Linked DNA regions of Homo sapiens: all the other regions are linked to region 4. Evidence: fine-mapped expression QTL. A gene starts in region 4. Each other region holds a variant in brackets. All regions are shown on one strand. Distances are from middle to middle.

The links. PIP is the estimated chance that this variant, and not a neighbour inherited with it, causes the effect. A credible set is the group of variants that fine-mapping cannot tell apart.
Region 1: its variant is the best candidate, but not a certain one, in a credible set for the expression of GNPDA2 in skeletal muscle (FUSION, PIP 0.66).
Region 2: its variant is the best candidate, but not a certain one, in a credible set for the expression of GNPDA2 in atrial appendage (GTEx, PIP 0.68).
Region 3: its variant is the best candidate, but not a certain one, in a credible set for the expression of GNPDA2 in tibial artery (GTEx, PIP 0.67).

The regions. Positions count from the first base shown.
Region 1 is chr4:44,932,356-44,940,469 of GRCh38, reverse strand. No RefSeq gene overlaps it. Among named protein-coding and RNA genes, the nearest start is that of GNPDA2, 210 kb to the right of the region's middle. The variant C/A (reference allele first, on the strand shown) is at 5,522.
Region 2 is chr4:44,636,975-44,641,974 of GRCh38, reverse strand. The region is part of intron 2 of YIPF7 (Yip1 domain family member 7); the gene reads left to right. Among named protein-coding and RNA genes, the nearest start is that of YIPF7, 12 kb to the left of the region's middle. The variant TC/C (reference allele first, on the strand shown) is at 2,196.
Region 3 is chr4:44,700,432-44,709,040 of GRCh38, reverse strand. It overlaps GNPDA2 (glucosamine-6-phosphate deaminase 2), which reads left to right. Exons shown (of 7, transcript NM_138335.3): 6 at 1,115-1,289; 7 at 5,899-7,246. The coding sequence ends at 5,960. It overlaps GUF1 (GTP binding elongation factor GUF1), which reads right to left. Exons shown (of 17, transcript NM_021927.3): 17 at 8,113-8,609. Among named protein-coding and RNA genes, the nearest start is that of GNPDA2, 22 kb to the left of the region's middle. The variant A/G (reference allele first, on the strand shown) is at 4,605.
Region 4 is chr4:44,721,765-44,730,373 of GRCh38, reverse strand. It overlaps GNPDA2 (glucosamine-6-phosphate deaminase 2), which reads left to right and starts at 3,818. Exons shown (of 7, transcript NM_138335.3): 1 at 3,818-3,900; 2 at 8,132-8,290. The coding sequence starts at 8,167. RefSeq lists an enhancer at 3,486-3,615 and a silencer at 4,108-4,402.

The DNA.
Region 1 (8,114 bases), 210 kb before region 4:
CTTTTCTTACAGAATGGATGCTCCACGAGGGCAGGCACAATATTATTTCTTCACTGTTAGCACCAATAAACAGTTGCCCAGCAACTGACACACATTAAATTCTCAATGTATAGTTTTTGACAAAATTAACACTATGATAAATGTTTATGCTCCTGCTCAAACTTGGATTTGGCCTTAAGATGTACTACAGCCCACTAAGCAAGGAAAAAGAGACATGTTGAAAGCCGAGGTGCCTATTATGAAGAGGAAGCTTTGACATGTTTCTAAGATTTTTTTATTCCTATCATCATCTTTTCTTGTGCCAAGAAACATTGTGAAGAACTGTGTAAAGGATGAAAAATTTGCCTTTTATTGCCTATGAACTATTTAAAGATTCTTTAACTTGTAGAAAACAGGTAATAATGCAAATAAATTGGGTTCAGTGGACTAAAATTTATCATTTCCCTATGCATATGGGCCAGGTTTACATCTACTTATAAATGCATTTATTATTTCTGATTGCCTACCTTAAAATATCTTTCAGATTGAACTAAATGAAAGATAAAAAAGAGTATGTTATAAAAAATATTTTTTCTGAACGCCACATGATGCTGATTAAAAAAAAAAACACATGAATTTGACACAGTAAGCATCCTCCTGTCATTCTCAGCTTGTTCCTTATAATCACCTTCTTTATCTAATAACAGCAGGCTGGAACACGTTTTTTAATGACAACATGGTATTTAATCTTTCATTTTTAAAAGGAACATTAATTATGCAGTTTCATAAAAAATAAACGAAGGTGAAGATGTATGCCAACATCAATTTACAGCATTCTTTTGTTTAATTAATATTATTTCATGTTTTAATTTGAAGTGGGTTTTGCTCATCAACATGAAATGTTTAATTTATATGAAACTTCATTCAGAAGACTGCCTCCGGAGAAATAACAATTTATTCCAGGCTATGTACACACATTTTCAATAAAATATTCAGTTCACGGGGGATTTTGTTGCAAGCATCATTCACAGTTAACTTGAGCTCTCAACGATCCAGGCTAATTCTAGATAAATACATTACTTGGTAATTTATAGAATATGCAAATAGAGTGATTTTCAGCCTTTGATTGTCTCCAGTTCCTACCAATTTAATTTCCCTACATTTGTCAAATCCACGGTCCAACTGATTTGAACTGGCAACATCCTTATTCAAGGTTCTTATTGTCCTTATTCAGATCGTAACAGTAATCTCCGAAGCTGGTCTCCCCAGTTCTTTTTACATCATCCGCAATACAGTCAGAGTAACCACTTCATTTAACCCAGAACCTTCTACATTCTCTTATAATTCCTTTTTTTTTTTTTTACTTTTAGAGAGCACAAACTATGCAATATTAATATTCTACTTAAATATTTAAATGAGCCCTCTTGTCACTTGCCCCCAACTCCACTCACACCCTGTGCTGCATAGTTCTATTTGCAGGTCTCCGAAGCTTTCTTAAATTCTATCCACACTCTTTCTGTAATATTCTTCAACACTCCATATTCCTTCCAATTCTGACTAATTCCTATTCATCCTTCAAATCCCAATTCAGAGCAACTTCTTCATGAAATCTTCCATGATAACTGCCTGATACAGATTTATCAGATTTAGTCTTCCGAGCTTCCAAAAAACTCCATTTATATGTAGTTCCTCACTATTCTGTAAACGTCTTAAGATCTAGGACTTTATTTCAGTTGTAATATTTTGACTGATTTACCTGGATATTACTGGGAAATAATAAAATCCTATGAATGCACTTTTTGTAAATGTGAACTTGTTATGTTTTATGCAGCCCAATTAAAGTCCCCAGTTGTAGTTATCCATACATAATTAAGAACACCGAATAATTTCAGGCATTTTTGGGGGGAATGAACACTAACAATTTCAGAAATAGAAAACTAGGAGAAATAGTGGATTTATTTTTCCACACATTTTATTATCTCCAGGAGACTATTTGTGGAAAATTATATTTAAGTACGAAAATTTTATTATATCCAACAAATATTTAATTTCACCAAAATATACCAAGACCTACCATTAATCAGATATTCAGGGTGTAAAGATCATTAAGATACCTCTCTGTCAGTAAATTTTCTTCCAATATAATAAATTGATCTGCATGAAATTGCCATTTTAGTAAGTCAAAAATAGTCAAGTATCGGCGATTTGTACAATATTAATACTCGGGACAATTTGATATGGTTCAAAGTAGTATTATGGAAATAGATACAGAACTTAAAATATCAAAAGTAGAATGTCTAAGGCTTTGAATAGAATAAGAAGTGCACTAAGAACAAAGGTGTGTAAAAACAATACTAATTTGGGGTGAAATTTCTAAAAAGTCACAAATAGGAATTGGGCTAGATCATAAAGCACCTTTACAATTTCAACAGATAAATACATTGGAAAAGCCACACTGAAAAGGTACATTAAAAATGAAAATGTTTTTCGTGGAAAGTAACAAGTCTCACTAAGGCTATTTTGGATGAAACAAGTGAAAATATATTCAAATTAGCACTAAAGGAGGCTATATCTTATACAATATATCCTCAAAAAATCAAAGATAAGAAACAAACTATACCTAGGTCTGATGGGAATTTGAACTGGAAGTTGGAGTGAAGTCTTATGTCATCATATCTTGGATATTAGGTATTAATTGTTCCAGGATAACCAGACTGCTTGCATTCAGATCCCAGTTTACCCACTCTACAGATACATGACTTCGGGTAAATCATTCACCTTCCTTTTAAATGCAGGAAAATTGTTCAATTCCCACCTATGAGTGAGAATATGCGGTGTTTGGTTTTTTGTTCTTGCGATAGTTTACTGAGAATGATGGTTTCCAATTTCATCCATGTCCCTACAAAGGACATGAACTCATCATTTTTTATGGCTGCATAGTATTCCATGGTGTATATGTGCCACATTTTCTTAATCCAGTCTATCATTGTTGGACATTTGGGTTGGACAATGAGATCACATGGACACAGGAAGGGGAATATCACACTCTGGGGACTGTGGTGGGGAGGGGGGAGGGGGGAGAGATAGCATTGGGAGATATACCTAATGCTAGATGACGAGTTAGTGGGTGCAGCGCACCAGCATGGCACATGTATACATATGTAACTAACCTGCACAATGTGCACATGTACCCTAAAACTTAAAGTATAATTAAAAAAAAAAGTCATTCCTACAAAATAAAAAGCAAATTAAACAAAATAAATAAATAAATAAATAAATGCAGGAAAATTTTTGTTGTGAGGATTAAATGATGTTAACATATGCCAAGTGCCTAGATAGGGTGAGGCATACAGTAAGTGCTACAGAAGGATTTACTAATCTTATACTTACTGGGCTGCTCCATTTTACCTTTTTTTCTCCATTGACTGGATTTCACCAACTCATCTTGCTTGTTCCTCAGCATGGAAGCCTCCTGTACCCTCTCTATAGCATGTAACTGCCTTCTATCTGGCAAGATACTGCACTGGATTTAAGTTAAATATATGTTTCAGGTCCTGTTGATCACAGATAGGAAATGAATGAAAAGCTAGGATATGAAAAGCTTTAAGAATCTCTGTGGGTCAGACAATGAAATATAGCTTAAAAGAAATATGTATGGTTTAATATTTTAAAAGTACTGAAGATAATGACTTAATGATTAGTCCAGGATAATTTTTTAAGTTTGTAAAAATGTGCAGGCAAATTAGAGGCCAATCCTCAGGTCTGTGACTATCCTAATGAGAAATGTACACTCCATTCCATGAGTAATAGGGAAACATCAAAGACTTTAAGCAAGACAGTGTTTAAAGATAATAACTTTGAAAGCAATGCGGAGATAGAAATAGATGGTTCAGAGATAGTAGGATATGAGAGGAAAGAAGACAGGATGAGAACCTAGTGCAGGGTTTACCCTACATGGTCCACACAGAAAAATCAGTAGTCATGAGAAAAAGCTGAATTCTATATCATTTTACTGATGTGTGAACCAAGAATTACCTATAGCTGTGTAGCAAAGATAGTTCTCTTTTCTAAAAGTATATGAAAATACATTAATGTGTCCACATCACCAGGATGGCTATAAAGATCAAATTGGATCACATATATGGTCATATATATGCATATATTTGTATAGATATATGTGTGTAATAATATTTACATGTGTATATATGTGTGCATGTGTATATATATGTGTGTATCTATGTGTTTATATATATATATATATATATATAATTTTGAAGACTGTTAGACTGAAAGGCATTTACTAATGCTTATTTACTATCTGAAACCTACTGTCCAATAAAATCAATTCCCAAGGAGAATGTTTGTTCTGTAATGTACTCAGCAGTAGAAGCTCAAGCATCACTCGTATTTCTACACCAAAAACCTAGTTCCAGAAGATTTGTAGCACAAATTCTAGCTGAAAACAAATCTTTCCTCTTCTCAACAAAACTTTTACTTTCTCTCTTCCATAGCTGTAGTAGCACATTTAGATTTTCAAAAAACAGGTGGTTGAAGCTAGCAGTGTAAAAAGTATTTTACATTCTATCTGATTCAGCTGCAGTGATTGCAAATAAATTAGCTTATAAATCTTCAGAGTTCAGCCCTTGATAAACCCCAAATATGCCCTGTTACATCTAGAATTTCTTCTGCTTCTGGGAATCCTTAAACTTTTCAAATATGACTGGTTTTAAAATCACTTGAACCTTAAATAAATAAACATTCAAGGCCCAAAACTATTCTACTCTATTTGTTCAGTTCCTGAGTTTTGCTATCATCACTTCATTCTTTCCATTCTTCTCCTGCATTTTCTTAAAGACTTTCCCTTCAGGATAAATATCTTCTGTTTCATCATTTCTTTTTCTCCTATGTCAACAGCCCTAAAATATATTGCTTTAGCAAAATACAAGAATATTAAATACATTTTCTAGTGTTATTCTTTCTAAAAATTAAGTCAGTTTTAGCATGTATTTGCTTGAATATTTTATAAAATATGTAATGACTGGAGGCTACTGTTCAGGCAACCAGATAAATCACACTAAGAGTATATGGGAATATATATTTCATTGACAGTTCTTGAAAGTCTTAAGACTTTGTTGAAGTCTAATTCGATAATTATTTGTGGAACAATACCTATATAAGGTACACAGTGCTCAGAAGTAAAATCCCCATAAATAATGTCTTTATTATTATTGCTACTGGAACTAAATCTCACCATTTTGCTGGAGAGTGAATAAGAAAAAAAGTTATTTTGATGTTTAGCATACAAAAGCATACTAAACTAAAACAAGCACAAATTTGTGGGTCATGGCCACCTTATAATATCTCAAACTTACCCAAAATGCAGGTCATCTTAAAAGGATTAATAGTCATTTTTGGCCTTGCAGCTAACATATTATTTTGAGTTCAAATCAAATTTAAACATTTTATTGCAATGATTTTGTGCACCTGAAGGTCTGCAGAATGCTGAAAAGCTATTTTTAACAAATCAATATTATTGTTCTCC[C/A]AAATTTGGAATCTCTGAGAAGAGTTGATAAGCCATGGTTTCTGATTATGCATTCTTGCCTAGTGTTTTGAGGCTTTAATGCATTCTTGCCTAGTGTTATGAAACTTCAAATCAGCAAAACAAAGTTTGCCATAATGTCTCCCTCCTCCTGTGTTGAAAATGTTTGTGCTGCTTGCATGTTTAGTTCTTGCAGGAAACAGTTAATACAGTCTTTTTCTCGGTTTACAGGGAATATAATTTTCTGATATTATAGATGGCTAATATATATTATGTGTCAATGTTCTAAATGCTTTTACATATATGAATGCATTTAATACTCACAAAAATCCTATATAAACAGTAGTATTAGTAGCACCACATTATGTATAGGAAACAGAAGCTAAGTGGTGTTAAATAACTTGCTGAAGGTAACACACCTAGAGCTCAGACTACAGGCTTCAGTGTCCACATCCTTACCATTCACTCTGTACAACACTTCAATTAGCACAAAGGATAATTTAGTTAAGATACAAAATATACTCAAGTAATATTACTAAAGATATTGATAACATTTTCTATAACCAAATGCAAAAGCACAAAATAAGAAGGGCACCTTATGAGATATGCCAAAAACATGGACTTTTTGACTATGATTCAATAGCATAATAATGTTGCTTATAGTTCTGTATTTGTAGGATACAAAAATAAATTATTATATGCTTTAATCATTTTTGTTAAATCTTGACTAAATATATGTTTGAACCAGAGGCCACAAGTCTTAATTCTTAATGAAAAACCTATTAATTACCACAATATTTACATTACATTTATTTTTTGTATCTTGCCAATGCAAGGTTAAGTTTCTTTCTAAATCTATCTAAAAAGGGCAAAATTCTATGTTGTCATCTAAGGACTATTAACATGTATTCTTGAGACCATTATTTCACTTAGTAAGCAACTACATTTGTTAAAATGCTTGTTCTAGAAAAAATATATTTGTTCTCTTCAATTTGTAAATCTCCTTTGTCATAGAGAGTTGATTTTGTTCACTAAGCTTGTGAATATTAGCCTATTCACTCTCACCTTACTGATCTTTTCATGATTAATCAATTATAGGAAATCATGCTGATTCCCACAAAATAGGAGAAATTCCTTAAGGTCCTTCTCCTTGAAAGAAAAAAAAGGATTCATTTGATAAGTTTAATAAATGAGTGGCTCTAACAGATGAACCTTAGAACCCAATGCAGAATCTTGATTGATTTTTCCACCTCAGGACGACACTAACAACATAGAGGTGACTTGAAATAAGGGACCCAATGAGGATAGACACAAACCATATTCTTTGCTAAAGAGTTAAAATAAGTGGAATTATTTAATCTAGGGGGAAAAGAACCTCAGGACAAAGAATAATAACATTTGTGTAACATTTACAGCTCTTAATGAAATCTATTTTCCATTATTGTTGAACATGCTATGCTTCCTTTGGTGAAGTCTAAAATTAGCATAGCCATTTTTTTCTATGTGTCCATGTATGTACACACGTATGTATATGTATATTCATTTATTTAACTTGAAAACCCCTATGTGGTAACTATTTTTATTACTAATATTATCTATGACAATGACAATGATGATCCTTTTATGAAAATGTAAACTAAGGTATATAACTCATGTATGGAGAAATTTGGATTTGAACTACACAGTCTAGTACAGAGTCCACATTTTACATGGCACTGTCTCACATAACAGAACTGTTTAAACAGTTGAAGGTCTGTTATGTCAAAAGGGTAGTAGATTTTATAAATAGGACAACTTATGCCAGCTCATCTTAGTTTCAGAACTAGATGGAACCCAAAGGAAGAGAAACAGTGACCTGTTGGGGCCAGCCTGTCTGACCAAGAAAGCAGGATCAATACTTTGGGGCAAGGTTTCTCAACATTGGCACTACTGACATTTGGGACTAAAAAATTCTTTGCTGTGGAGGTCTCTATGTACTTCAGGATATTTAGCAGCATCTCTTTCCTCTAGCCCCTAGATTCCAGTAGCAACCCCTCAATCATGATAACTAAAAATGCCTCCAGACATTGCCAAATGTGCCCTAGAGGTCAAAATCACCTTCACTGAGAATCATTGCTTTAAAGACAAGGACAGAAAAGGTTCCCTTTCAATGCAAGAGAAAGTTTACCAGAATAGAAGGTTTAGTTAGAAAGAATGAATAAGATCTAGTATTTGCTAGGACAACAGGGTGACTATAGTCAAAAGTAATTTAATTGTATATTTTAAAATAGCTTGAAGAGTATAATTGGATTGTATGTAACACAAAGGAAAAACACTTGAGGTGTCGTGTACCACATTTACCCTGATGTGATTATTACACATTGCATGCCTATATCAAAATACCTCACGTAACCCATAAATAGATACACCTACTACATATCCACAAAAACTAAAAAAAAACACTACAGAAGACAAAAACATACAACAAAGGAAGAAGCTGTATACATCCAAAACCTTGATAAAAAGTAAAAATTACCTAAAGTAACTGATACACATCCAGAAGAAAAAAATAAAAAGGTGTATTTTGAAAGGAAAGGTACTATCTCTCCAATTTCAA
Region 2 (5,000 bases), 87 kb after region 4:
GATTTTTATCAATAAAAAAGCCATTCGGATTCCTATTGCTAATTTGTTTCTACCAGTGTTTTTGATGATGTGCCTATTTTGCTGGAAAATAGATTAGGAATATTACATATGGCTAAGTGAACAATAATAGCAGGTAATCACCATACATTCTGGCAGGTTCAAATATTATTACACCAGGCTCTTGCTCTTAATGAGCATACATTTGAGTTAGTAAATGATTAAGTGTATATCTCCCCCCTCTATATCTGTGGCTTTCTTTTCCTAAATAAGTTATTCTCTTGGTCAGGCTTACTCACATAAAGGAGGTCGAATATGTTATTCTTAGATTTCATATTAAGATTAACATTCGAAGGAAAGTACTAAAGGCCATTTTGTAAATATTTTATCATAAAGAAATCACAAGGAGTTACCAAGTTCAGAACCTTGGACTGTACATTCAGTTTACCCCAAGGGCTTTTATGAAAGAAACTTAAAACGTGTTACTGGGCAGCTCTATGTTTCTTTCCATTCTTTAAGGTAAAAACAACTTAAAATGAATAAAAATAAAAAGCAAAAACATGTCAAAGAGGTATTATGGCTTGGCAAAGTTGAATTGCCCATTTTCAAAAAGGGACTCTTTTTTTTATTCAAGATGGCTGACTTGAAGCATTTCAAGCATGTTTTATCCACTTAGAAGAAGCAAAATGGTGTGTAGACAATCACACTTCTAATATATTATCCAAGGCAGAACATTGGAATTCAACAGGAAAGTGACAGAAAACACCAAAAGCTAGGAAGGGGAAGGAAAATAGGCAGCATACATGGCCAAGACCAGCCAAGAACCAGGAATGACTCTCCAGTACAGGAGAGGGTGAGTGAGAGTCTATACGTGGTCCACTTTCCTGCTGGGGAATTGCATAATTCAGGTTATGGGAGAGCACCTTGACTCTCTCAAACCCTAGATCTAACTTAGAAAGCAACCAGGAAACTGTGAGAAGGAACTGCTTTAGGGAGGGAGCATGCCTTGGGTTCCATGCTCTTTCTGAAACCCAAGCAGCTAAAGTAAGACACCATTCTAGATCTTAGCCCTTAACAGACTGTGTGAAGTCCTGAGAATTCCAGTCCTAGGCATTAGGGAAACTTAGGCTGGTGTTTGCAGAACCGGGGTGTGAACTAGGGGCTGGCCCTAACAACCAAGACTAAGAAGCTAGTGTGGCATGGGCTGCAGCCACCAGTGCAGGAAGCAGGTACTGCTCCTCCTACTTGAGCAGGATGAGAGTTGCCATGAAGGCTTAGTGTTGAGCTAAGTGGAGACTCCTATGGGCCATGAGCATGAACTGAGGGGCAACAGTTGGGTTGGCTATGACACCTGTCTGGACTGGGGGCTGTAAGAAGGAAGCAAGTCTCTTACTCACTGGCCAAGGCTAAGGCCACTGGGACTGGTCCCACCCTTCCCATGGAAGGACCTCAGTGCAGTGGTGACTACACTTTACCCAAGAATTCCACCAGAGGCCTGAGGACTGTTTCTCCCCAACCTGTCATGGCCAGTGCATGCACTCGTGACTGGGAGTCCTGAGTGTAAGCTTGCCCAGTCCAGCTCCATCTGGCTTTGGCCCTCAACCAATGATAAGTGACAAAATTGAATCAGCAATAAAGAGTCTGTCAACAAAGAAAAGGCCTGGACCACATGAATTCACAGTCGAATTCTACCAAATGTACAAAAAAGAAATAATACTAATCCTCTTGAAACTGTTCCCAAAAATTCAGATGGAGGGAGTTTTCTCTAAGTCATTCTACAAGGCCAGTAACACCTGATACCAAAACCAGACAAGGACACAACAACAACAAAAACTAGACCAATAGTTCTGATGAACATAGATGCAAATATCCTCAACAAAATACTAGCAAACCAAATGCAACAGCACATCAAAAAATAATATGCCATGATTTAGTAGGTTTTATACAAGGGATGAAAGGATGATTTAATACATGTAAAGCAATAAATGTGATAAATCACATAAACAGAGCCAAGGACAAAAAACATATGATTATCTCAATGGATGCAGAAAAGCATTTGATAAAATTCAACATCCTTTCATAATAAAAACCCTCAACAAACTAGGAATATAAGAAATGTACCTCAAAATAATAAAGTCTATTTAGGACAAATCCACAGATAACATCATGCTGAATGTGAAAAGTTGAAAGCATTTTTT[TC/C]TAAGAAAAAATGAAACAAGACAAGAATGCTCACTCTCACCATTCCTGTTCAACATAGTAGTGGAAATCTTATCTAGAGAAATCAGGCAAGAGAGAAAAATAAAAGCCATCCAAATTGGTAATTGGATGATATGATCTTATTTCTAGAAAAACCTAAAGAATTCACCAAAACCTCTTAGAGTTAATAAATGAATTCAACATACATATATAAAATACATATGTATAAAATACATACATATATAAAATCAACATACAAAATCAGTAGCATTTCTATACAGCAATAACTGTCTAGCTGAGAAAGAAATCAAGAGGGCAATCTCATTTACAATAATTACAAGCAAAATTTAGGAATACATTTATTAGCCAAGGAGGTGAAAGATATCTACAAGGAAAATGACAAACAATGATGAAAAAATATTGTGCATGACACAAACAAATGGAAAAACATCTCATGCTCATGGATTGAAAGAATTAATATTGTTTAAATGACCATAAGGCCCAAAGCAATCTATAGATTCAATGCAATCACTATCAAAATACCAGCAGCATTTTTTAACAGAATTAGAAAAAAACTATCCTAAAATTCATACAGAAGGAGAAAAAAGCCTGAATAGCCAAAGCAATTCTGAGAAAAATGAACAAACCTGGAGGCATCTCATTACCTGACCTGAAATTATATTACAAGGCTATAGTAACCAGAACAGCATGGTACTGCTATAAAAATAGACATATAGATCAATGGAACATAATAGAAAACATGTAAATAAGGTCACATATTTATAGCTAACTAGTCATTGACAAAGCTGACAACAACATAAGTTGGAAAAAGGACACTCTTTTCAATAAATGGTGCTGGGACAATTGGATTGCCATTTGCAGAAGAATTAAACTGGACCTCTATCTCCCACCATATACAAAAATAAACTCAAGATGGATTAAAGACTTAAACATAAAACCTTAAACTATAAAAATGCTTGAATAAAACATAGGGAAAACTTTTGGACACTGGTCTAGGCAAAGAATTTATGACTAAGACCTCAAAAGCATAGGAAACAAAAACAAAAATAGACAAATGGGATTTAATTAAAAACTTCTGCACAGCAAAAGAAATAATCAACAGAGTAAAGAGACAGCCAGTAGAATGGGAGAAAATATTTGGAGAATATTCATTTGACAGGGGACTAAAAACCAGATATACAAGGAACTGAATTCAACAGCCAAAAACCCTGAAACAATCCCATTAAAAAGTGGACAAGGAGTAAGGTGGTATTGCATCATGGTTTTGATTTGCATTTCCCTGATCATTAGTGATGCTGAGCATTTTTTCATATGTTTGTTGGTCATTTGTATATCTTCTTTTGAGAATTGTGTTTATGTCCTTAGCCTACTTTTTGATGGACTGTTTTGCCCTCACCTGTCATGGCTGGTACATGCACTCATGACTGGCGGGCCTGAGTGCAAGCTTGCCTAGTCCAGCTCCATCTGGCTTTGGCCCCCAGCCAATAATGATTCAAGATTGAATCGGCAATAAAAACAGCCAACAAACAGCCAAAAAAAAAAAAAAAAAAATCCTGAAACTCAACAGCCAAAAAACCCTGAAACAATCCCATTGAAAAGTGGGCAAGGAGTAAGGTGGTATCGCATCATGGTTTTGATTTGCATTTCCCTGATTATTGGTGACGTTGAGCATTTTTTCACGTTTCTTGGCCATTTATATATCTTCTTTTGAGAATTGTCTGTTTATGTCCTTACCCCACTTTTTGATGGGAATTTTTTTCTTGATAATTTGTTTGAGTTCCTTGTGGATTCTGGATATTAGTCACTTTTGAATACTATTCAGCCATAAAAAGGAACGAGTTAATGGCATTTGCAGCAACCTAGATGGAACTGGAGACTATTATTCTAAGTGAAGTAACTCAAGAATGGAAAACCAAACATTGTATGTTCTCTCTTATAAGTAGGAGCTAAGCTATGAGAATGCAAGGGCATAAGAATAATACAATGGGCTTTGGGGACTCGAGAGAAAGGATGGGAGGGGTGTGAGGAATAGAAGACTACAAATTGGGTTCAGTGTATACTTCTCAGGTGATGGGTACACCAAAATCTCATAAATCACCAGTAAAGAACTTACTCATGTAACCAAATACCACCTGTTCCCCCAAAACCTATGGAAATACAAAATTTTTTTAAAAAAGAAAAAAGTGGGCAAGAATATGAATAGACATTTTTCAAAAGAAGACATACGAATGGCCAACAAGTATATGAAACAATGCTCAACATCACTAATCATCAGAGAAATGAAAATTAAAACAACAGTGAGATATCATCTTCCCCCAGTCAGAATGGCTCTTATTAAAATGACAAAAAGTAACAGATGTTGATGAGGATGTAGAGAAAAGGGAACTCTTACACACTGTTGGTGGGAATGTAAATTATTAGCCTCTATGGAAAACAGTATGAAGATTTCTCAAAGAACTAAAAATAGAATGACTATTTTATCAAGCAATCCCACTACTGGGTATATATCCAAAGGAAAAGAAGTCAATATATCAAAAAGATACCTGCACTCATATGTTTATTGAAGCACTACTCACAATAGCAAAGATATGAAATTAACCTAGTATCCACCAATGGATGAATGAATAAAGAAAATGTGGTATATATACAATGAAATACCATTCAGCCATGAAAAGAATAAAATCATGTTATTTACAACAATATAGATGGAAATGGAAATCACTATCTTAAGTGAAACAAACCAGGCACAGAAAATCAAATATCACATGTTTTTACTCATAAACGTG
Region 3 (8,609 bases), 21 kb after region 4:
AGAGGCAATGTAATGTAATTGTTAATCGCTAAGAATATGCACTGTAGAAAAAAACTACTTGTTTGTATCTTACCAAAACCTTGGGCCAGTTACAGAATATGCCTCAGTTTCCTTATCTTTAAAATATGAGTAAGAATAGTATTTCTCTCATGGTGGTGTTTTGAGGAGTTGAGGTAATTCAAGGAGAGTGCAGAGTATTTCCTCCCATTTTAGGTCTAGTTATAAAATATGTAATACAAAATTTGTTATATTTTAGAACTACAGCAATTTTAACATTGTTTTTTAAAACAATTGTAATGAGGAAAAAAAGTTTAAAGATTATATTACAAAAATATGTGTGTAGATGAGGTGTTAAATGGGATCAATTTCCAGCTTAAACATGATAAAGAAAAGATTCCGACACATACACATTCACATTTGCAACATGTCATTGCATTATTTCATTGGCATTTAGGGCCTGGGGACCAAGAGCTTGGATTTTCTGTAGCTTATAAGGGTAATATCAGTCATATGTGATTATAAGACAGTTCCTATGTGCTTATAAGACAGTTCCTATGTTTAAGTAGATCCCTAATCCTTTTTTAAATCCAGTTTTTATTCTGAGTCAACTTTGAATAGCACATGTTCAGTGAAATGCTCTTCAGGCTTTTCTTGATAACTCTTCAAATTACCTGTTGTTTTAGAGTCTTTGCTTTTCTGACATAGTATCTTTTGCTTATCTAGACTACAGCAACTTGGTGTATCATTCTAGATTGTATAAATTATTTATAGATTTGTAACTCTGCTTTTGCAACACAGTCCTTTTGTTTCTTTTTCTTCATTGTCCCAGGTTTCTTTTATACATCATCATTCACTATGTTAAAAGTTACAGGTATTATAGTGTTTGCATTAATAACCCATAACAAGATATTGTTTTGCTTTGTTAAACTAGAAGCAACATTTTGTGCTTGTTAATCTTAAAAAGTAGAAATGAATACCTTGAACTATTATGTGGAGCTATGTATTTTTCTTTCTCTCAGAAAAAAATATTGGTGCTTAAGTTCTCGTTTAAAAAAAATAGAGCTTCTTACTCATTTGGAACAAGTTTTAACAATTGATGTTCATAATTTTTCAGGTAATGATCCTTATAACAGGGGCACACAAGGCATTTGCCCTGTACAAAGCAATAGAAGAAGGAGTCAATCACATGTGGACTGTTTCCGCTTTCCAGCAGCATCCCCGGACTATTTTTGTATGCGATGAAGATGCTACTTTAGAATTAAGAGTTAAAACTGTGAAATACTTTAAAGGTGAGCACTGAATTTCAAAAGCCGACTGAGATAATCTGTTGTGAGTGACAATTAAAACTTACTGTGACTGTGGGGTTAAATCTCACACTGTGACCTATTGAAAAGTGGCAACACATAGCTAGTTCTTTCAAGTAATGGAAAGTTCTCACCTCAGATAATAGTATCTTCAAAGTAGTACCTTTTTTTTTTTTTCATGAAGAGAATCTCTTCAGTCTCTATTTTCAGTAAACAATTTTTCTTGAAATCCAAGGTTTAATAATTTACTTTCATATTGAATATACAAGACCAAATAACCCAAAAGAAAATGTATCTTTGTCCATTCTGGATTTCTTTTCATGTTTACTAGTCCCACCTCAATCCCTCTTCCTCACTCCCCTCTAACCTTAATTTAGAACCTAATCAGTGGATAAGAGATCTCCCACTATCTAATTTAATCTTTACAATTTTAAGCCAATTTATTCCCATATATTAAAGTTATAATGTCTAAATGTTAAAATAGTATGGAATAAACTCTGCAAGTAAGCAGGAGTTTGATTGCCCAGACTTCATGTTGATTTTCCTTTTTCCTGTAGTCTAGTTCAGTAATTCAGAAACCTTACTCTACCAGGCTGTGTATTACAAAACACATATGCTTGATATAATGGTTTTAAGAGATTTTCAAGGGACATTTTGCCTATACCCAATGTAGAACCTATTCTCTGATTTAAGAGTCAGCTCCACATATTACACATATGTAAGCAAACTGTACAAACAGGTAATTTTCATAAAGCACCTGTATTTACATAGCTGATATTAAAAGTTACATAGTTGATCATATAGATAGGTCAGTGATTCACTATGTAGTATGTATGCTACTTTTGCTACATGATTATACCTTTTAATCTTTTTTACTCTAGTAACTAGGTATTTATTTTAATGCCTATTGGAAAATACACTGAATAAATCAAAGCTATATTTTTTGGATATTATTGCTTAAGACAAGGTCCAAAAAAGCTACCATATTTGATTGGCTCTAATACACGTTGATCTTGCTGATGTTGGACTGTGTCTTAAAACTGGTGTCAGATCATAGCTTACTGGGTAGCATTTTTTTCTCAGTGGTACATAAAATGGTGTGTCTTACAATTTATAGCATCTCATACTCAGAAATAAAGTATATAATCTTAAATTTTTAATTCAATGCAAAGAAAACCAACTCATATTTCATGTATATGTGTGAATATGGCAAATATCTTGAAGGTGTTATACAAATAACTGACATTTGGCAAGCACTGAAAATAGTCTATTTTTAAACAAAATGCTGATCATGCTTTGTATATAGTTTTGTATTTGTACTTATGTTTCATGAGCATTTTCCTGTTTTACTAAATATTTGGAAGCATTTTAATGGATAGTTAAGTACATAAATCATAATTTATTTAAACATTTCCTTATTAACACTTAGATTATTTCTAGTCATTTATATTTTTACCATTTAAATTACTAATTTACCAAGCCACAAATATATCAAACTGAAAAACTGAAAAACTGAAAAATTTCTGATTTGTGAATAAAAGAGCATTTGATGGAGTTTTAACTCTATTTTCCCATGTAACCCTTCAGATTTCATCCCAAATAATAGATTCCTTGACTACAAGGAATCCTCACTATCCACAAATTTTAATTCCAGTTTTAAGGAGATTCATTTAACATGGCCATTTTCTAGTCCTCATTAAGTCCCAGATAAATCCCTGTACTAATCTAATTTTGTCACAATTAGGTTTTTATCAGATTTTTATATCTTGGTGAATATTTAATAAGATATTTAATAACAGCCAGTATCTCTATGACCAGGCACTATTCTAAATGCATTTTACTTATTGATTTACTTATCACAAAAATGTTATGAAATGGGTATTCATAGTCCCATTTTTAAATTAATAGGCTTAACAGACAGAGACGTTAAGCTACTTACCCAAAGTCATACAGCACATATTTGGGCAGAGCTGGGTAATAGAAATCAAAATCAGGCTGATCTCTGGAGTATGCAGGCTTTTGTCTATTCTATTATACTGCCTCCCAGAATAAACTCTAGGTATGATACCATCTACATCAAAACCATATTTCCATCTGCTTTTTTCCCATATGATAATCACTGCTTCCAAAAAAGGTATATCGACATATGTTAGATAATTTAAAATAGAAGGGTGGTAGATGTTTATATGTATTTAGTTCTTTTAGTTCATCTAATTGTAAGCTCTTCTGAAAAATTTTGAAACAGACCATTCGTGAGAGGATAGCTGCACTGCATCAAGAGGACACAGTATTTTCCACTTTGGAGCTGTCTGTATTTCTGAAGAGGTTTCAGGGTATCAGCCTGTTAGGATACCTCCTTCAATATGAAGACAGAATTTAGACATTCTGGGCTACATATGGGCCTCATTTTACAGCATTTTAGTAAAGGGTAGAGAAATTGAATATTCTTAAATAAACACATTTCAAATGTAGTTTGTATACTTTTCATACCTCCATTGAGTTACTAGTATATCAAAATACTGGAGGATGTAAATTCCTATAATTGTCATCCATAACTCTTCAAATTCCATTCACATCACTACCCTTTCTTCTGTCATCACTAAAAAGTGCTGACCAGAATCTTAAAGGGTTTTATTTAGTGCCTAGATAAGATCTAGGTTAACTAGATCCAAAACAATAAAAATTGTCAGTAAATGCAAGTTTATTTCAATATATACCTATATAACGGTATATACCTTTTGAAAGATACAAGTTAATCACAAGACAACAAGTTTAGTACGTGGGGATTTGTTTTATTCATTCTCGCTTTTCATTTTTGCTTTTTAAATAGAACAGCTTTGATTTTTAGTATATGACATCATCATCATGAATTTTTTTCTCTTACTTTGTATTTAGGCTCCACCTCAGTAGTTTGACAAAGGTAGAATGAGTTCATTTTGAGTCAAAACCATAAAAGTTACTTTGTATAGACATTGGTTAGAATCTGTGACATTTAACCTTTCTTCTGGTAACGTTTCAGGAAGTCTGGTGCATTTTTATCAGAAGAATTATTTCTGTTTGACTTAAGTAGCAATTATTTATTTATATAAAATTCGTATGTAGAAAGTTGTCAGTTTTTACCTAAAGTCACAGTAAATATTTGACTTAATATCTAAAAAGCAATTAATAGAATTTTCAAAATAATTATTTCTAGTTTGGAAGCAGTCCTATTTGATGTATAAAAGATATATCCAATGTAAAGAAAAAAATTTTATAAAGGAGTTGAATTTTTAATATTTACTGATATTTTAATTTGCATGT[A/G]TTTTAAAGCTCTGTGTATTCTTTCCGTAATCAAAGTTGTTAGCAAATGACAGATGAATACTATTTAAGTAGAAAAACGATCCTCTACAAAGTGATACTCTGGAAAATGTTGCATCTTCTAAATCATACAGCTGATATTACCCTTATCTTTGTTGTCCCCTCTCCTACTGGACATGAAGTTTCAGGTGACCTTCAAGTAGGCTGTTGAGCAGTTGCAGGACTAGTGAATGGAATGCTTCCCCCTTCCCTCCTTTAGAGTCCCATTCTTATGGTTAGAATTTCTCCTACTACACAAACACTTCCCAGTACTCTTTGCTTGTCCCTTAAAAGTGGGTCTTTCTCAAAGCTGGGATTTTAGAGTCCTTTTTGCAGCCTTTCTGACAAGGAACATCTGTTTACTAACAAGCAACCTATCTCTCCAATCCAGTAATCCCATTTCCTGCAAAACCGCATTAAGTGCCTTTCCCCACCCTCCCATGTTCTTAATACCTGGAAAACTTAACTCATTTCTTTACCCTCCAAAATATAAAATCTCTGGTTCATTAACTGGGTCAGTCTTTTTAGAACTTTTTTCTCCCCAAAGAAATATAGTACTGAGGCATTAAAACAGGAGTAACTGGAAGATCAGCTATTTCCCAAGCAGCTTCCATAGCTAAGAGCAGTCTGCAAGTATATGTACCAATTACAAAATGAAAGTTATAATCTACCGGATTTAAAATCGTAATTTCTATTCTGAATTAAATGATTTAATACAGGTTGTTTTCTGTCTTGTTTTAGTAACCCTCCCTCAGTGTAGAATTTGTAATCAACCTTTGTCATAAATACACATGCCAAACTATTGGAAAGTAATTTACCAGACGAATGGATAGGGTAATGTATTAAGAGTGAGACAGCAGTTCTGAGCCCCTGGCTGGAGTCTAGTAGAGGAACTGCCAGAGGATCAATATCAACATAGACTTTTAGATATAATTAAAACCTATTATCTAAGTCAGTATTCAAATTTGTCATGCTTAATCTCTTTGAAGACAAGAAATGCTCTTCTGGTTACTCCCAAAGTACCTGTACACATTCTAGATCTGCACTGTTACATAATTATAAATTGGTATTTGCTAGGTAGATAAAACTTAAGACATTCTGAAACATTTCTATTTGTACTTTTTCAATAAACTTGACTATATCAAGATGGGAACTAAACAGGCTTACTGTGTCTTATAAAAAATACTTTGTTGTCTAAAGTAAATGAGATAGTTCAAAATTAATAAAAACAACTAGAACTGTGCTTTTTTTCTTTAAGGTCTAATGCATGTGCACAATAAACTTGTGGATCCACTATTCAGTATGAAAGATGGAAACTGAAGGAGACTGGAGCAAAATTCAGCTTGAATGAACAGAGCACTTTTTACTAAGTAGTAGATGAATTTTCAGCTATGCAATATGACAAAACATGGGGAATTTTGAAGATTGTCATTTTTTCATTCGAGTCTCTATGTTAAACATTCCATATTTTGAATATTTATATCTTGTACTTGGGTTTAAGAGAAGTAGCTGGCTCTCAAGATTGACTGGCTATTTATTATAAAGTACTGAAGTCACATAGCCACCTATAAAACAGCATAGAAATGTCTGCCTGTTTAAAAAGTCATTTTAAAGGTAGAGTGTCCACATCAGGCACCATTTGTGATATGACTCCAGTGGCGTATATTTCATTTTTTAATGACAAGACACTCCAAACCTTTCAGATAACAAACTATCATTGCAGACCTTCACTTTTGGAATGCAATCTTTATATTTTCTGTGCATCACACACATGCTTTTCTGCACGTGGTTGCCTTAGTCATCTTCCTACAGCACCATCTAGACATCAAAAATTGTGCTATATATCATTGGTAAAGGAAATTTGAAGAGATGACAGTGCCTAAAAGTACAGTTTACATCCTTTTGGAAAGTATGTGTAAGTGCATGTTTTTTGTGCACCTTCTTCTATAGCACTTTTTTACAAATATCTTATTTTTATTTAACGACTTGGGTTCATGTCCCTAATATAAGTATCTTGACAATTATGAGCTTTATACCTAGCAAGCCACTTCAGGAAATTCTTTTGGAGAATATTTTCTGATTATTGTTAAACTTAATATACAATTAGCTTTATTCCTTATAAAATGTCTAAAAGAATAATACGAAGTATATATAAAAGGAATTACTGTAAACTACATTGCCATAGCAATTTACATAAAAGTATATTGTTTTTTATCTTTAACTCAAATAAAGCGTGTAATAAATAAGTTATCTAAATTTCCAGAAGTGAACCTGAAGAATACATGCATTCGACTCCCAACAATTATAGTACATGTGAACCTGCATTCATTTTGGGTTTGTTACCATCATGCATTAGGAGAGTTAGGTTAAAAGATGTCTTTGCCTCTGTGGGGAGCAAAAAAATGCTCCTTTTGCTTATTTTGCATTTCATAAGCCCACCTGGTAGAAGAAGCCTTACTTATCTGCTTGTCTATGTGATTAAAATGTAGTTTCTTAAAATATTAAAATAGCAAATAAATTAATGAAATAAAATTGGTAATAGGGTTTTATGGTTAAAAGTGGGGGATGGGGTAAATTATGCTGCTTTAATTCCAGATGATGTTTTAATAGCCTTATAAATGTTTTTTAAATAACTAGTGAGTAACACTCCACTTACACTTCCAGTAATAAGAATCATTTACTACAAACTATGCTGACTACCTTAGAAAGTCATACAGCATCACAGTGAAAAAGCTAAAGGTACCTGTTGTGCTACATGATTCACCAGTAATTTCTCTGCTTTAAAGGTCTAAAAATTCTCCTTTCCATTTTCCTTCCCTTGATGTTAGGGGCTTAGTTGAGGTTCATGTACTCAAGCTCCTCCACAAGCTGAGGAGCGAAAACTCTGGCCATTTTCATTCCTGCTTTCATTCCCTAAATTGAGGAGCTAAGCTGCTGTTAGGCAAAGAACCTAGCTTTTTCAAGAAACCAACCACTGAATCCCAGCTCTGTCAGGGAAATAAAAAAGTCTCAGCTACTTCCCCAAAATTTTTACATAGATTGAATAAGGGAAGCATACATAGCTCAGCACAGTGGTTGTCACATATTAAAGTCAATAAACGGTGCTATTTTAATATTGATAACAGTGTTTAAACATATTTCAGTGTTTGCTAAAATCTTAGTAATATTAAGTCCTCTGAGGAATGCACTTATAAAGCACACAACTCCAAATCACTAAAGTCATCTGACTGGGAAAGCGGGAAGGGGAAAGAAATTAAGCTTACAGAAAATGCTTTTTTGTACTACAACTAAAACTATAACTAAAACTACTTTTTTGTACTACTATAACTAAAGAGTCATAGGTTAAAAAAAGGTAAAATTAGTCTGAATAAAAAAGACTAAGACTGGTAAATTATTAAATAGCAAGCACATAGTACATATTACGTTCCAAGAACCAATTTGTAACTTATCCTTTGGCAGTGATAGAACAGAACACTTTTACAATTTTTTAATTTCAAATACTGTCATTTTCAAAATACTACTGTCATGGTCTTTCAGATTTCATCTGTTTTTATCAGAACCTGGAAGAGGGAGGGAAGATACATAAGATGATAATGTATGTATCTAGGACTATATCACAGGCTACTTCTACACATGATTTTAAGTAAATCTCCACTTAATTTATAATTAAAATGATTTCACAATAACTGTAAGCTCAAAATATCTGAGACAGCTCTCAAGTCAGTTTAGAAAGTTTATTTTCCCAGGGTTAAGGTGTGCCCATGACACAGCCTCAGGAGGTCCTCACCACATGTGCCCAAGGTGGTTGGGGCACAGCTTGGTTTTACACATTTTAGAGAGACATGAGACATCAATCAGTATGTGTAAGGTGTACATTGGTCTTGAAAGGCAGGACAACTTGAAGAGGGGCGGGGGCTTCAAGCATAGGCAGGTAAGAGAGAAAGGGTTGCATTTTTTTGAGTTTCTGAT
Region 4 (8,609 bases):
GAGTATACTGAAAGTCACTGAACTGTATACTTTAAAAGCCTGAGTTTATAGTATGTGAATTACATCTCGATGAAAATTATGTAATAGATAACCTGAATAATCCTGTATTTATTCAGGAAATTGGATTTATAGTTAAATTTTTTCAAAAAAGAAAACTCTATGTACGTACGGCTTCTCTAGTGAATTCTATCAAGTATTTAAAGAATACATTATGTTACTATAATTCAACACAAATTATTCCAAAACATTGAAGAGGGAAATTTTCCCACTCAATTTATAAGTTTGTTATTACTATGATACTAAAACTAGACAAAGACTTCACACACAAAAAAAAACTAATAAACAAAAAAACTATGGACTGATATCCCTCATACACATAGGTGTAAAATTTTTAAACAAAATTTTAGAACATTGAACCCAACAATAAATGTATAAGAAAGACCCTGACCAAGAAAAACAATGACCAAATCTAATTTTCTCCAGCAATAAAAGTGCACTCAACATTGAATTCACCAACATATTAGAGTGGAAAACCATACAACCATTTCAATAGATACATAGAAAGTGTTTGACAAAATTCAACATCCATTGTTGATTAATAAAACAACTATCAGCTATTAGTGAAATGCCTGATACCAAGGCTGGGTAGGAAAAATACAAGGTACACTCAGAGTCGTTCCGTGTTGGAGTCTTCATAACATACAGTCATGCATCACTTAATTATGGGGATACATTCTGAGAAATGCATCTTCAGACGATTTCATTATAGTGTGAATGTTATACAGTATATGCACACAAACCTAGCATATATACACAAACTACACATATATGGTATAGCCTATTGCTCCTAGACTACAAACCTGTACAGCATATTACTGAATACGGTAAGCAATGTAACACAATGGTATATATTTGCATATCTAAACAAAGAAAAGGTATAGTAAAAAAAAAAGTATAAAAATTAAAAAATATTAACAGTACACCTGTATAGGACATTTACCATGAAAGGAGCTTGCAGGACTGGAGGGTGCTCTGGGTAAGTCAGTGAATGAGTGGTGAGTGAATGTGAAGACCTAGGACATTACTGTACACTACTGTAGATTTTATAAACAATGTAGAGTTAGGCTACACTAAATTTATAAAACGATGTTTTTTTTCTTCAATAGTAAATTTAATTTCCTGTAGCTTTCTTACTTTATATTTAAATTTTTAAAAAACTTTTTGGCCGGGAGTGGTGGCTCACGCCTGTAATCCCAGCACTATAGGAGGCTGAGGAGGGGGGACCATGGGGTCCGGAGATCGAGACCATCCTGGCTAACACAGTGAAACCCCGTCTCTACTAAAAACACAAAAAATTAGCCGGGTGTGGTGGCATGCGCCTGTAGTCCCAGCTACTCGGGAGGCCGAGGCAGGAGAATTGCTTGAATCTGGGAGGTAGAGTTTGCAGTCAGCCAAGATTGCGACACTGCATTCCAGCCTGGACAACAGAGTGAGACTCTGTCTCAGAAAAAAAAAAAACTTTTTGACTCTAGTAACAACGTTAAGGTTAAAACACACATTGGAGAGCTGTCCAAAAATATTTTGTTTCTTTATATCCTTATTCTATAAGTTTTTTTATTTTAAAATCTATTTTTAATTTTTTTCCTATTCAAATTTTTTTGTTAAAATGAAGACACAAACACACATGTTAGCCTAGGCCTACACAAGGTCAGGATTATCAATCTCCCTGTCTTTCACTTTCACATCTTATCCCACTGGAAGTTCATCAGGGCAATAATGCACATGGAGCTCTCATCTATAATAACAATGCCTTCTTCTGGAATACCTCCTGAAAGACCTCCTTGAGGCTGTTTTATAGTTAACTTTTAAAAATATAAATAGGGCCAAGCATGGTGGCTCACGCCTATAATCCCAGCACTTTGGGAGGCCGAGGCAGGCAGATCACGAGGTCAGGAGTTCGAGACCAGCGTGGCTAATAAGTGAAACCCCGTCTCTACTAAAAATAAAACAAAATTAGACGGGCGTGGTGGCAGCTGCCTGTAATCCCAGCTACTCAGGAGGCTGAGGCAGGAGAATTGCTTGAACTCAGGAGGCAGAGGTTGCAGTGAGCCAAGATTGTGCCATTGCACTCCAGCCTGGGTGACAGTGCGAGACTCTGTCTCAAAAAAATAAACAAATAAATAAAAATAAAAATAGAAATAGAATGAATACACTCTAAAATAATGATAAAGAGTATAATATAGCAAATACATATACCAGTAACATAGTCATTTATTATCAAGTATTATATCCTGTACATAATTGTATGTGCTAGACTTTTATGAGACTGGAAGCACAGTAGGTTTACACCTATGTAGCCACAAACACGAGTGGTGTTGCTCTACAACTTTACGTTTACTACAATGTCGCTAGGTGATAGGAATTTTTCAGTTCTGTTATAATCTTATGGGACCATTGCCAAATATCCAGTCCATTCTTTACCTAAACTTCCTTATGTGGCACATATCTGTAATTCAAGACTGTAATTCAGTCTCCACCTTTCTACAGCATTCTTTCTAAAACACGTATGTTCTAGTCTCTTATCTTCAATTCATAAAGCTTAAGTGACTCCCTATTGCCTACAATACAAAGCCTAAATTCTATGCATAGCCTACAAACTACTTCATCATTTTACCTCAATCTTTTTTGGAGAGACAGGGTCTTGCTATGTTGCCCAGGCTGGTCTCCAACTCCTGGGTTCAAGCCATCCATGCACCATGACCTCTGAAAGTGCTGGGATTACAGGCGTGAGTCACCGAATCTGGCCAAAAATCGCTTTTGCAAACTTACTGAAGGCGATAGTACTAATAAACCTGTCTATTATCAGTATGTGAGCAATGTTGCTGTTTGAAGCTAAATCAACGAGAATGTAACATCCTACTCTTCACTAAAGGATGCAAGAGGAGTCATTACATTCAAAGAAGCAGGCTGGATTTACAACCCAGGTGAAAAACTTCATATAACGAGTTTGAGGACACAGCGTTTTACATTTTTTTAACTTGTAGTTTCCACAGAAACAGAACCTTAAGTTGGCTAGGAGTCAAGATTGTATTGTTCCTAACAGAACCCTAAACGGTGTTATTAATGGAACAGTGTTCCTGATGGAACATGGTGAAGACACAACACACTTTTCTCCTTTTGAATGATAGCTGCTTTCTTTACAATAATTTCCACAGCCCAATTCCTTCCCACTCCTGTATAAACATCTGTGATACCCAGCTCAAAGCTGATTCCAGCTTCCCCTATCCCTTTCTTAGACTCATTCAGCAAAAGCCAGTACCCTATTATATAGTGTTTTCTCTTACTGAGACGCTCCCGATTTCCCATGGTACTGTTTGCCCTTTTGCAAACTTTGATGAGTTTTTTGACACAAGACGCTTATCTGTCATTGCGTTTGCAAATATGCATTCAATAGCTTGGAGTAGAGAGAGAAATGTATTCATAAATGGCAAATATATTCATGTTGCCAAACAGCAACATAAGCAACAAAGTACGTGTGAGCACTACGGTCTTACATACTAAATCTCATAAGCCTAAAGAATCTACTGCAAATCCCTCTTTGAAAGATGGGGGGGAGGGGAAAGTAGCGTAAAGTGATGACCCAGAAACTGCGATCTTCCAGGCAAGAAGAGCGCCCAGCCGCACCGCACTCGGACCGAACTCCTCGCGTCTCACCTCAGGCGTCCTAAAGGCGGTGCGCATGCGCAGCGCCCGCCAGCCACGCCGCGGTTCCTTCCTGCGCCTTTATCTGCATCCGGGTCCGTGGGATTCGCGCTCCACTGGTCAGCTGGGGTCGCTCTCGGGTGGTTGGGTGTTGCTTGTTCCCGCTGTTCCAGCATCGAAGAACCATTGGGTCTGCCGGTAAGTTTAGCGGGGGGTGCGGCGGGGGCGCCAAGAAGGGGACTCGGGTCGGGGGACCCGACGGCAACTTCGCCCTGTGCGGCCTTTGTGCTGAGACTGGGACGCCGGGCCGGGGCGGAATGGGTGCTCAGGAACCTCGAGGCTGGGGGCGCGTGGGGTCTCCCGTATTGCCACTCGCGGACCTGGTTGTCCTCTCCGGATTTGTGCCTACGGGAGAAGGCGTCCCTGCCCTCTCCTCTCTCGCGGCTTCTTCTTGACACCTCTCTCTACACTCGTTAAAAATTCCTAACAGTCATCCTCATTTGCATTCGCTGTCCTTTGCCAAGTGAGGGCCAGGCAAACGCGCAGCTGAGGGGAATCTGCAGCCCCCGCCTCCCGGGCAGGAACCACAGCCTTCTTTGCTGTCTCTCGTCCCTCCTCGGGTCGGTCCCACACGCGCGGCCAGGCCACCCTTACGCTTTCAGGACAGGTCAGGTTGAGTAGGGAAAAGCTCAGAGCAGAGGTTCTGCAAGTGTAGATTCTGGTCTTGGCCCCGCCATTAACTAGCTGTGTAACTTCACGGGTGTAGAAGTTGTCATCCACCATTGAAGTTTTGCGATTTATATTCAGCAGCCCTTTTTCCTAGCGATGCACATCCAAAATGAATCAGCACCTGAAGGAAGACGAGGGAAAGGGTGGTGCTCTGTTGTTTTTTGATGCTGTCTTGTGATGCCAGAGAATTGCATAAGGCGACAATAGTTTGGATCTCTGAGGATTGGCAAAAACTGGAAAAGTCAAATCTTAAAAACTTAAATGTGGTGAAGAAATTCTTCTTTGCTCTGGGTGAAGGGATTCATTTGGGACTTTTGGAGGTGACTCTGCGCCCTCCAGAGAGTTTAAGAAAACAAAAAGTTGCCTGTACCTTGGTCTGAGAGACTTGCTTAAACTTCGTTTCAGTGAGATGTGTGGTGTTCTTAACAAATTTCACCTGATTATGAATATCCCCTGTGATAATTTGCAAAAGCAGAGATTCCTTGGACTTCATTTCAGATCTTTTGAAACACTGTGTCTAGGGAGAGGGACCTGAGAATCTGTATTTTTAACTAGCATCGTAAGTGATTCTCAACCGGTAAGACATCTTTGGCTAATGTCTCTTTGAGTCAGAAACACTTAGTTTTAAAGCCAGCTCCCCGGGCCACTTTTTAACGTCAGCAATAAACTTCTCGTAGTTGCAGTTTTCTGTATATGAAGAGTGAGAATAATGCTTTCAACCTCAGAGACAAGTGATTCTAAGCCCTTTGACAATAGAGTTAATCATTTTTGTGTCTACAGAACCTAGCATAGTGCTTAGAATATAATAGGTCTTCAAACGTGTGTTGAACTGAGAAAAATAACATGCCCAGGATGCAGAAGACATTGGAAAGCTCTAATGCTTCTCGTCCTCCTTACCTTATTTTTTTTCCGTTTTATTAACAATCAGCTGGCCATATATTCTTGTTAGAAGTAAATATATCTTTTGATGTTCATTACAGCCAATAATTCTTTCTGATTCTTTGGTTTAACTCTAAAATTGTTTTTGACATTAGATTATGGATTATATTTAAGTGGAGGCTGAGTCCAGTTGTTGGACTGAATTTATGACTTACTATGTAATTTATTTTCTGTAAATAAATAATTGTTATCGGGCCAGAATTCTAGATCATGGTGACCATGATTTTTTGTTGTTGTGTCAGAATTCGAAACTGTTACCTTCTTAAAGACATTTAGATTCCATACATTTATTTTAATAAGACCTTTTAATCTCATTAATTTAGAAAATTTGACTTATTACTCTATGTAAAGTGTGTGGGTACAAAACTCAGGAATGCTGAAACCATGTTATAAAAAGCTTGGTATTGGTGACTGATCCATTTAATATAAAAATAAGAATTAAAAATCTAAGAATTATGGGAATTATTACAGAATGTTCAGTAAATGTTATAAGGGGACGTTTATAAACTATTGATGGTAATGTCAGTTCAACTTCTGTAGAAAAAAGTATGAAGATTTCTCAAAGAACTGAAAATAGAACTACCATTTGATCAGGCAATCTCACTACTGGGTATCTACCCGAAGGAAAATAATTCATTATATCAAAAAGATACCCGCATTCATTTTTATCTCAGCACTATTCACAGTGAGGCAGTAGAATAGGGTCTGGAGGCAGAGGACTTAAGGCCAATTCGTGCTGACTTCCTAAAGCTAAATCAAAGGAAAACACCAAGGTCTGGGGGCAGGAAATCTAAGGCCAATTTGTGCTGACTTCCTAAAAGAGAAAACACCTGCGTCTGGGGGCAGGTAACCTAAAGCCAGTTAACCAATTAACGCAAACTTCCTAAAGCTAGACCAAAAGGAAAAAACCCATCTCCCCATGCCCAAGTAGCAAAGGACCAAAGGCTACTCTCCCTACGATCGACTGCCTTCCACCACCTCTCAGATGGAAGGGGAAAGTGCCTTGGATTGTCCGTGGACTAAGCATGGGCCATCCCTTCATCTGCATAGGGAGCCAATTCACCTCAGCCTTTAATTAGCCACGGACCAAATCCTTCATGCAGATAAGGGGTAACCGATAAGGGACCTCAAAAGGAGTATTAAAACCCAGAAAACTTTGTAACCGGACCCTTGAGCCGCTTGCTTGGGCCCACTCCCACCCCATGGGGTGCTTTCTTGCTTCAGTATCCCTGCTTTCGCTGCTTCATTCCTGTGTTTCGTTCCTTTTGTGCAGTTCTTTGTTCAAAATGCCAAGGAACTGGACACCTCACACTCATGACCTTCCTTCCAATAACAACAGTAGCAAAGATAAGAAATCAACCTGAGTGTCCATCAGTGAATGATTGGATAAAGAAAATGTGGTATATATATACACCGCGAAATTCAGCCATTGAAAATGAAATCATGTCCTTTGCAGTAACTGGAGGCCATCATCTTAAGTGAAACAACTCCCAAATAGAAAGAAAAATACCACATGTTCTCACTTACAAGTGGGAGTTAAATAATGTGTACACGTGGTGATGGAAAGTAGACTGATATTAGAGGCTTAGAAGGGTTGGGGAGTAGGAGTGGGTAGATGATGAGAAATTGCTAGGATCATTGTACATTATTCAGGTGATAGATACACCAAAACCCCAGACCTAGTCACTAAATAATATATCCATGTAACAAAATTGCATTTGTACCCCTTAAATTTATACCATTTTTTTAAAAAAAAGGAAAACAATATGTCTTACAGATAACAGAAGCTGTGAGTTACTGTAAGAATGCTGATTTCCACATCTTTCATGGTATAAGTCAACCTACATTGTGTAAAATGGAATTATGTAGCTTTTAAGTGACTCCGATCTCTTAATATACGTATAATAATTTTTCTTAATTTTAGAATAATTTTTGAGGAACTAAAATTGCTTTTTGTCAAGAAATTTCTCCTCCAGAGATGAGCAGTTTATTTAGTTCACTTTGTTTTCTTTTTCTTCTGTTGAATTCTCTTATTAAAAATAACATGTCTAGTGTGATCCTATTGTTATAATTTGAATTCTGACCTTGTTGCTTACTACCTGTGTGACCTTAGTCAAATTATGTGAGTCCATTTCCTCATCTATAACTGGGCATTTTATTTACTTCACAAGATGGTTGTAAGGATTAAAATATGTACACTTGTCCCTAGTATCTGTTGGGGATTGATTCTAGGATCCCCCTTCAGATACCAAAATCCACAGATGCTTAAGTCCCTCATATTGTATGACATAGTACTTGCATATCACCTGCACCCATACTCCCATATACTTTATCTCTAGATTACTTATAATACCTAATACAATGTAAATACTGTGTAAATAGTTGTTATACTGTATTGTTTAGGGAATAATGACAAAAAAAAGTCTGTACCTGTTTAATACAGATGCAAACATCTTTTTCCCCTAAATATTTTCAGTTCTTGGTTGGCTGAATCCTCGAATATGGAATCCACAGAAGGCTAACTATACTTAAATGACCTAGCCCACTGCCTTAAACTCAGTGTCTGCTCAAAAGAGAACAGCTATTACTATTTTTTAAATTCAGATTGTATATGTGCATGTCCTTCTTCAGTAATGTACTTTTAAAAATCATCAGTATATTCTGTTTCAGTGCTCTATTTATTATTTACATCTTTTAAAAAGTTACTGAATTTAAATTATCTGTTTATTATGTAAAGTGTTCTACAATGGACTTTTCTCAGGTTTGAACTTGTTCTGGAAGCTGTGCGTCACCGTAATGAGGCTTGTAATTCTTGATAACTATGACTTGGCTAGTGAATGGGCAGCCAAATACATCTGTAATCGCATCATTCAGTTCAAACCTGGACAGGACAGATATTTTACACTGGGTTTACCAACAGGTAATTAACTACTTTTTCCATTTTATATTCTGATATTATCTAAATTTAATTCTGATGGAATTGAAGGGTTTCTTTTAAGATACTTTCCCCATTCATTTATTGGCATGTCACTAATTGAACATCATAGTATAAAAGGCCAGAAAAATGCATATATATAAAATCTACTATCTACAATGTGTTACTAGTTCTTGTGCCAAAATTTAGTCTCACCTGTCACTCCAAAATGCAATAGGAAATATTGTAACTTAAGTGTTGTTCATATTTTTTGTACATTTTTCTAGTAGTCCTTTGTTTTGGGGAACATTGCTTTTACCATTCA